Homo sapiens: one gene and its partner. The protein of the gene in region 1 purifies or fractionates together with the protein of each later gene. This does not show direct contact. Each region holds a gene or a part of one and is shown in the gene's direction. Other genes may lie near its edges.

Region 1 (3,650 bases):
TGCTGGCTAAGAACCAGACAAACCTACATTTGAAACCCAATTCTGTGACTTAGTACCTTTGTGACTTTTGGCAAGTTGCTTAGCTGCTCTAAGCCTTAGTTTATTTGTAAATGAACCCACCACATAGAGTTGTTGTGAGAAATAAATGAGATAATATAAGTAAAGCACTTAGCACAGTGTCTGGCAAATAGTAAGTGCTCAATAAATGGTGACTACTGCTGCTGCTGCTATTTTATTATTGCTGTTCTTTTCCCTACCTGCACAAATGCTGTTGGGATCCTCCATGGCCAAGAGGTAGAGGGAGGGTGCTGCCTACATCTGGGCAGGTGTGCTTGGCATGGACATTGGTCGGGATCTGTCCTTTGGGGAGAGGCCTAGTTCTTGATTTTATAAGCTTGGCTTTGGGGCAGGAATGTCTGACTGTGGAGAGGAGCAAGGCCTAGGTGAGCAACGTCCTGCCCAACATGCCCATCCTTCTAAGGTTTCAACTTGTTTAGCTGTGCTTATCTTTGTTTCAATGGAGTGGCATGAAGAGAAAAAGGAGAGGAAACACCACAAGAGCACTGAGGCCTTGCTTACCCTGTGGATAACCAGTCTGGGGATGTACCATGGTATAGCAGAGAGATCGTGGATTCAAATCCAACCTGGATCCACCATCTTATTAGCTGTATTAGTTACTTTGACAGTTTATTCAGCTTCTGTTCCTATGCTGCCTTTCCATCTTTTGTAAAATGGAAATAATGATACCCACCTTGCAATATGGATATTAAAGACAGATATTATAGGCTTGCATTAGTTCCTCTCCTACCCCTTTTCCTCCCCCAAGGAGTTACTGGCTTAAACCCTGACCTTAAGACTTTTGAGTAGTTTAGCCAGCTGGGTTTTCACATTTCCCATCCTCTTACATCTTTAGATCCAATTTTTTTTTTCATTTGGTTCAAAATTAAACAACATTTTTAGGCTGTTGAGGTTTATACCATGAAAAACCAGACGTCAAACAAGTCTAAGGGGTTGCATTGGGCTCAGCCTGGTTGTGGGCTACCCCCTGGTTTGATGGGACTCTCAGCCGCAGAAGGCAGGAAATAGTGGCCACATTAACCATAGCTTACCCCAGTTCCTGTTCCCTTTCGCTGCTTTTATAAGAGGAGGCTGGGGGTATTGAGGCATAGGCTTGTTTTTCAGTCCGTACGTGGAACAAGGAAGTCCAGGACCATAGGAAACGGGACTCTGGGAGATGGTTCTTTTGGAGGATTAGGACTGCAAGGCAAGAGGTGGAAAAGCAAATGAAATAACTCATGCTGAATCTGAGCTGCTTAACTTTACTGTCCTTTTCAAGCCTTTCTCTGAGGTGAGGTATTTGGCCATTTTATTCTGTCTTCCTGTATAAGGTTCAGAAATGAACCAGGTCTGGATAGGATGCACAGGCTGTAATCTGGGCTGCCCACTGACCTTGTCTTTCACTTCCGTGTGCCTCTACTCAAGGTTGAACAAGATCTGTAGTGGTCTCTCCTTTCAGAGGAAAAACCAGTTTATGCAGCGGCTTCACAATTATTGGCTGTTGAAGCGGCAGGCACGGAATGGTGTCCCTCTTATCCGGCGCTTGCACTCCCATCTGCAGTCCCAAAGAAACGCTGAGCAGGTAGGTGCAGTGGTGATTTGAGGCTGGTAGAGGGAGGTGGAGAGTGAAGGAAAAGGAATGATGGTTGGGGTGGGGCTGGCACCCCTTCTTGATCCCTCCATGGAGCCTTTGCCTACCTGTCTGGGTGGCCTATCCCAGGAACAACCCCCAGCACTACAGAGATCTTCAAGCAGCTCCTTCTGGATGGATGAGGCTTGACTTTGTAGAGAATTCTAGGGGAGAGTGGAGAGCATGCGTAGCTTTCCATATATGTGGGGAAAATCCTCTAGATGTAGCAGAAAGCCAGAAGTAGGCTGAATGAGAGCCAGGGTGGCCACATTGTGTTAATTAGGAAAAGGTGCCCTTTCCTCAAGACATTATACTGCCATCTGCCAAAAAATGTTTCATAGTAAATACACAAATTTACGATCTAAGTTGTAGCACACAGCCTGTCCAATTGTGGTGGCTGTTAGCCATTAGCAACTGGAGTTGCTGCATGTTTAATGTTTTCTGCTCCTAATTTCTCTTATTTTAACTCTTTAGTTCTTTCTCCCCCTTTACCTGTTCTATTCTTTCTGTCTTTAAGTGTTCCCACACTGCTGCTCCAGAGATGAAGCAAAGCTTTATGTGAGTCTGGTGCCTTCTGCATTCTGTCTGATCTCACTTTTGCCTTTTATAACTAAACTCCTGAAGTATAAGCCTGTATCTGGCCCGCCTTGAACCTTTTGGTCCACCTGCTCCACTGAAGCCTCCCCTAAAACATCAGCTACCTTCTCCCAGGAAGTCTTTCCTTATATTCTCACCTGATTGATCATTGGGCTGCATTTGACACCACAAATGACTTTGTCTAAGAGCTTCTCTGTGATACCACTTCCGGCTGCTTCTACCTCTCTGACTGTACCCTATGCTGATCCCACTTCTTGCTCTTTAATGGTAACATTCCCAGTGGCTCTGCTATCTGCTCGTTTGCTTGGAGAACATGTCCAATCTCATAATTGACAATAACTGTAATAGCAGCTCCAGACTTTTTGTCTTGTCCTCATCCCTTTTTTCTGCCATCAGTCCCTCAGGGATGTTTCCATGTGGATGTTGTTAATTTGTAACTCAAATATTGGAAATTAATTATCTTTTTTCCTCTCAGTAAACTTATTTCCCCATCATTATGGCTCTCCCCTCCCTCCTGGACTCATATCAAAAGTTCCCCACCTTGGAGTTACTTTTGACTCTTTACTCCCTAAGGGCCATTTTTAATCATCCTTTAAGCTGCTTTGGGGGCTTTATCAACATGGGTTTTTGTCTTCATTCTGCAGCTCTCCTGCTCATCCATGCCCTCTTAATCTCAGCAATAGCTTTCTAGGTGATCTCCAGCCTCTAATTCTTTCTTTGATCTTCAACTGGTAGTTTCTTATTCACATGCTGTTGGGATCCTCCATGGCCAAGAGGTTGTAGAGGGAGGGTGCTGCCTACATCTGGGCAGGTGTGCTTGGCATGGACATTGGTGGGGATCTGTCCTTTGGGGAAAGGCCTAGTTCTTGATTTTATAAGCTTGGCTTTGGGGCAGGAATGTCTGACTGTGGAGAGGAGCAAGGCCTAGGTGAGCAATGTCCTGCTCTTCCATTCTCTTACTTCCTCTTCCAGAATATACTCCTCTTTCTAGGCAGGCGAAGTTAAGGCTCTTTTGCCTTACATTTGAAGCTTCTTATTAGCTGTATCCTGGATCTTCCTTGGCTTTTATAGTTCTCCAGCATCTCTGTTCTGGCCAGCCTGTTTCACTTACTAAGCAAAGAATCACTAATTCTGCCTCTATATTTCTGCCCCTTTCATCCCTTTGGTTCCAGAAGAGACCTTCCTTACTACTTTGCCCATCCATGTCTGTCACCTACCTGTATGTTAAACTCTAGTAAGAGTCTTCACCAGGAAGCTTCTCTGATCTAACCTCCACCTACTCAGATCTTCTATTTTGTATCCTCTTAGCATTTTATTTCCAGTTTATATTATTAGTTTGTATTATCTTTATGCTAATATGCCCTTG
Region 2 (3,650 bases), on another chromosome or scaffold:
CTGTAATCCCAGCACTTTGGGAGGCCAAGGTGAGCAGATCACCTGAGATCAGGAGTTCAAGACCAGCCTGGCCAACATGGTGAAACCCCATCTCTGCTAAAAAAAATTCGAAAATTAGCTGGGTGTGGTGGCGGGTGCCTATAATCCCAGCTACTCGGGAGGATGAGGCTGGAGAATCACTTGAATCCAGGAGGCAGAGGTTGCAGTGATCCGAGATTGCGCCACTGCACTCCAGCCTGGGTGACAGAGCGAGACTCCGTCTCAAAAAAAAAAAAATCATTTAAGTCCAAAACCATGATAAGAGGAATTGGATGAATCCAAAACCATGGTAGGAGACATTAATGTTTCTCTGAAATGCGTAGACGACGTAATCCAAATAAGGTTGTGGAAGATTTTATAACACAGGAAATGAGCATAAACAGAGACAATCTGCTAATATTTGTTGAGCGGTTAATGACTACTAGGCAGTTTTCATAGCACTTGCCTCCTAGTGAAAAGCTTATAACGCAGGCCTCACAGCTGTATGATGAAGTAGCTACTGCTTATCATCTTCCCTGTCTTACAGATGGAGAAACTGAGGCACAGAAAGGTTCCCAGCTAATAAGTGGCTATGCTGAGATTTGAAGCCAGCAGACTGGCTTGTTGAGTGTTCTCTGTTCTTGATGTTATGTTCCACTGGAACTTGGGAGATGCATTTGGGACTGACATCCTCGGACTGCACTTGGCATCAGAACCATCCAGGAACAAGGAAAGCCATCAGAGCCATGAGTGACTGGGGCAGTCAGGTCACCTGGCCCTGATTCTGCGCTCTGCCCTTGATGAGGAGTTGCCTTGCTGGGGCTGTGTTTGACTTGAGAACCAGAGTGCCCATGTTGGTCAGCATTCTCTTAATTGAGCGCTATTGCTTATTAGGGCATGATCTTGCAGGATGCCACCGTTAGCCCAACAGAGTGCCAGGGCAGCAGTGGAGCCGGTACTCAGTCGTTTTGTCAGGTCCAGACAGACCTCAACTGGCTAACAGTGTCAGCAGGAGCTTGTGTATGGAGCTGCCTGCCAGGGACATGCCACATCACACAGTGCTGCCAATGCTGTGCAACACACAGCCACCTTACTTCTAGTTGGCTTGTCACTGGTAATCTGGAACCTCATCTAATAACTGATATGTCGCTACTTAATATCAAACAATCTGAAAGCCACCTGAAATACTGCCATACTTACTAAGCAATATTCTTCTTTAACACAAACTGAAATCAAATATTCACAAAAGTCTGTTATGTTTGTTGTGGGGTGGTTATTTATTTATTTATTTTTAAAGAGATGGGGTTTCGCCATGTTGCCCAGACTGGTCTTGAACTCCTGGGCTCAAGCGACCCACCTGCTTCCGCCTCCCAAAGTGCTGGGATTACAGGCGTGAGCCACCACGCCCATCTTAAAAGTTCGTTATGTATGAAATCACAGAGAAAATCACAGCACACCCAGGAAATTCACGTGGGCCACATTATGCCAATACAGCAAACTAGAAACCAGCAACAACCAAAATAAAACATGTTTCTGAATAACTTTTGAGTGAAGGGTAATCATAGCTGAAATTAGAAGCAATTTAGAAGGAAGTGGCAAGAAGAACATTATATACCAGATGCAGTCATAAAAATACTTAAGAGAAAGAGTGACTTCAGGTGACTTTATTAGAAATAGTGGGCCAGGTGCAGTGGCTCACACCTGTAATCCCAGCACTTTGAGAGGCTGAGGCGTATGGCTACCTTGAGCCCAAGAGTTTGAGATCAGCCTAGGCAACATGGTGAAATGTCCTCTCAACCAAAAACACAAAAATTAGCCAGGCGTGGTGGTGCGCGCCTGTAGTCCCAGCTACTGGGGAGGCTGAGGTGGGAGGATCACCTGAACCCAGAAGGTCGAGGCTGCGGTGAGCTGTAATCAACTCATGAAGCTAGAAGGAAAATGATGAAAAAAGTAAAGACACTAGAAGGAGAAGGTTTTTTTTTTTTTTAAAGATAGGGTCTTGCTCTGTTGCCCAGACTGGAGTGCAGTGGTGCAATCACAGCTCACCACAGCCTCTCGACTTCCTGGGCTCAAGTGATCCTCCCACCTTAGCCTCCAGAGTAGCTGGGACTATAGGCATGCACCACCACCCTGGCTAATTTTTTTATTTTGTGGAAATGGGATCTTGTTTTGTTGCCCAGGCTGGTCTTGAACTCCTGGGCTCAAGCAATCCTCCCGCCTCAGCCTCTCAAAGTGCTGGGATTACAGGTGTGAGCCACCACGCCCAGCTGAATATTTTTCTGTTAGTACATGTAGCTCAACCTTCTCTTTACTGTTCTCATCATGATGACTGGGTCATAAGATTTCACACCTGGGCCGCAGGCTCCTTGGTTAATGTTCTCTTGTGGTTCACATCACACTTTCCTTGATGCAGTCAAAAGCTCACCGAGCACTCATCCTGGCTGGGCCATTTAAAAGGTGTCAATTCTGCCTGCCAGGGTGCTATGGCTCCAAGGTGACTGGTTTGTGTTTCCAGGCCATCAAGAGCTGGGAGCTCCCTCACGGCTGCTGCTGATGGAAATCAAGGAGGAACTCAGTTCAAACTCCCGATTGCCCTGTGGTCACTCTTAGCAGGGCAGCTGTCTTGGGCCTAGCTCTGGGTCCTCAGTAGAGCCAGGCAGAGCCTCTGAGACAGGAGAGGACAGTGAGGAGTTGGCCACTTAGAAAGGGTTTGTGTTTGAAGGAACAATTTGGGACCTGGTGGTGTTTTCATAAATGTCCCGTTATGCTTGTTTTGTTATCTAGGTTTTTGTCTGATGAAAATAGTCTGGAGTATAAATATTACAAGCTGAAGTTGGCAGAAATGCAGCGGATGAGCGAGAACTTGCGAGGAGCCGACCAGAAGCCGACCTCAGCAGACTGTGCAGTGAGGGCCATGCTGTACTCCCGGGCTGTCCGCAACCTCAAGAAGAAACTCCTTCCGTGGCAGCGGCGGGGGCTCCTCCGTGCTCAAGGGCTCCGGGGCTGGAAGGCGAGGAGAGCGACCACCGGGACCCAGACCCTCCTATCCTCAGGCACCAGGCTGAAACACCACGGCCGGCAGGCTCCAGGCCTCTCACAGGCAAAACCATCCCTGCCAGACAGAAATGATGCTGCCAAGGACTGCCCGCCAGACCCAGTTGGACCTTCTCCTCAGGACCCCAGCTTAGAAGCCTCAGGCCCATCCCCCAAGCCAGCAGGAGTGGACATCTCTGAAGCACCTCAGACCTCTTCTCCCTGCCCATCTGCTGACAGTGGGTGCTCACTCCTGTCCCCCTCCTCTGGGCCCCAGTCCCTACTCTCCCATCTCCAGGGTCTCTTTAGAATTGGGGGGGCCTGCAATCTAGGCAAGGCAGTGGATAAAAGCTCTAGGGACCTGGCCAGGACAAGTGTACATGTTGGCGCTTTCTCTCTTGCTTTCTTGAGAGAGCTGCATGCGAGTCCTGCAGCTCCCTCCTCCTCTTCTGAGAGCGGAGCTGGTATGAGGTGCTGCCCCATGCCTTCGTGCTCCCCGACAGGGTCCTGCTGCTGGGGCCGTGGGCGGTGCATTGCCTGAACTTGGGATCCCATGTCCTGCTATATCCTGGCCTCCCTTGATAGTCTTCGGGACTGCC

What was found. Proteins that work in one complex are often made in the same cells at the same time.
Region 2: the proteins of BRPF3 (region 1) and SUGP2 purify together in Homo sapiens (affinity purification with mass spectrometry, with the first as the bait; one large-scale study listed by BioGRID). This does not show direct contact.

Annotation. Positions count from the first base shown.
Region 1 is NC_000006.12:36,203,176-36,206,825, forward strand, and holds part of BRPF3 (bromodomain and PHD finger-containing protein 3), read left to right. Parts: intron 1-1,482; coding exon 1,483-1,639; intron 1,640-3,650. UniProt on the Homo sapiens protein: Scaffold subunit of various histone acetyltransferase (HAT) complexes, such as the MOZ/MORF and HBO1 complexes, which have a histone H3 acetyltransferase activity.
Region 2 is NC_000019.10:19,009,495-19,013,144, reverse strand, and holds part of SUGP2 (SURP and G-patch domain-containing protein 2), read left to right. Parts: intron 1-2,802; coding exon 2,803-3,290; intron 3,291-3,650. UniProt on the Homo sapiens protein: May play a role in mRNA splicing.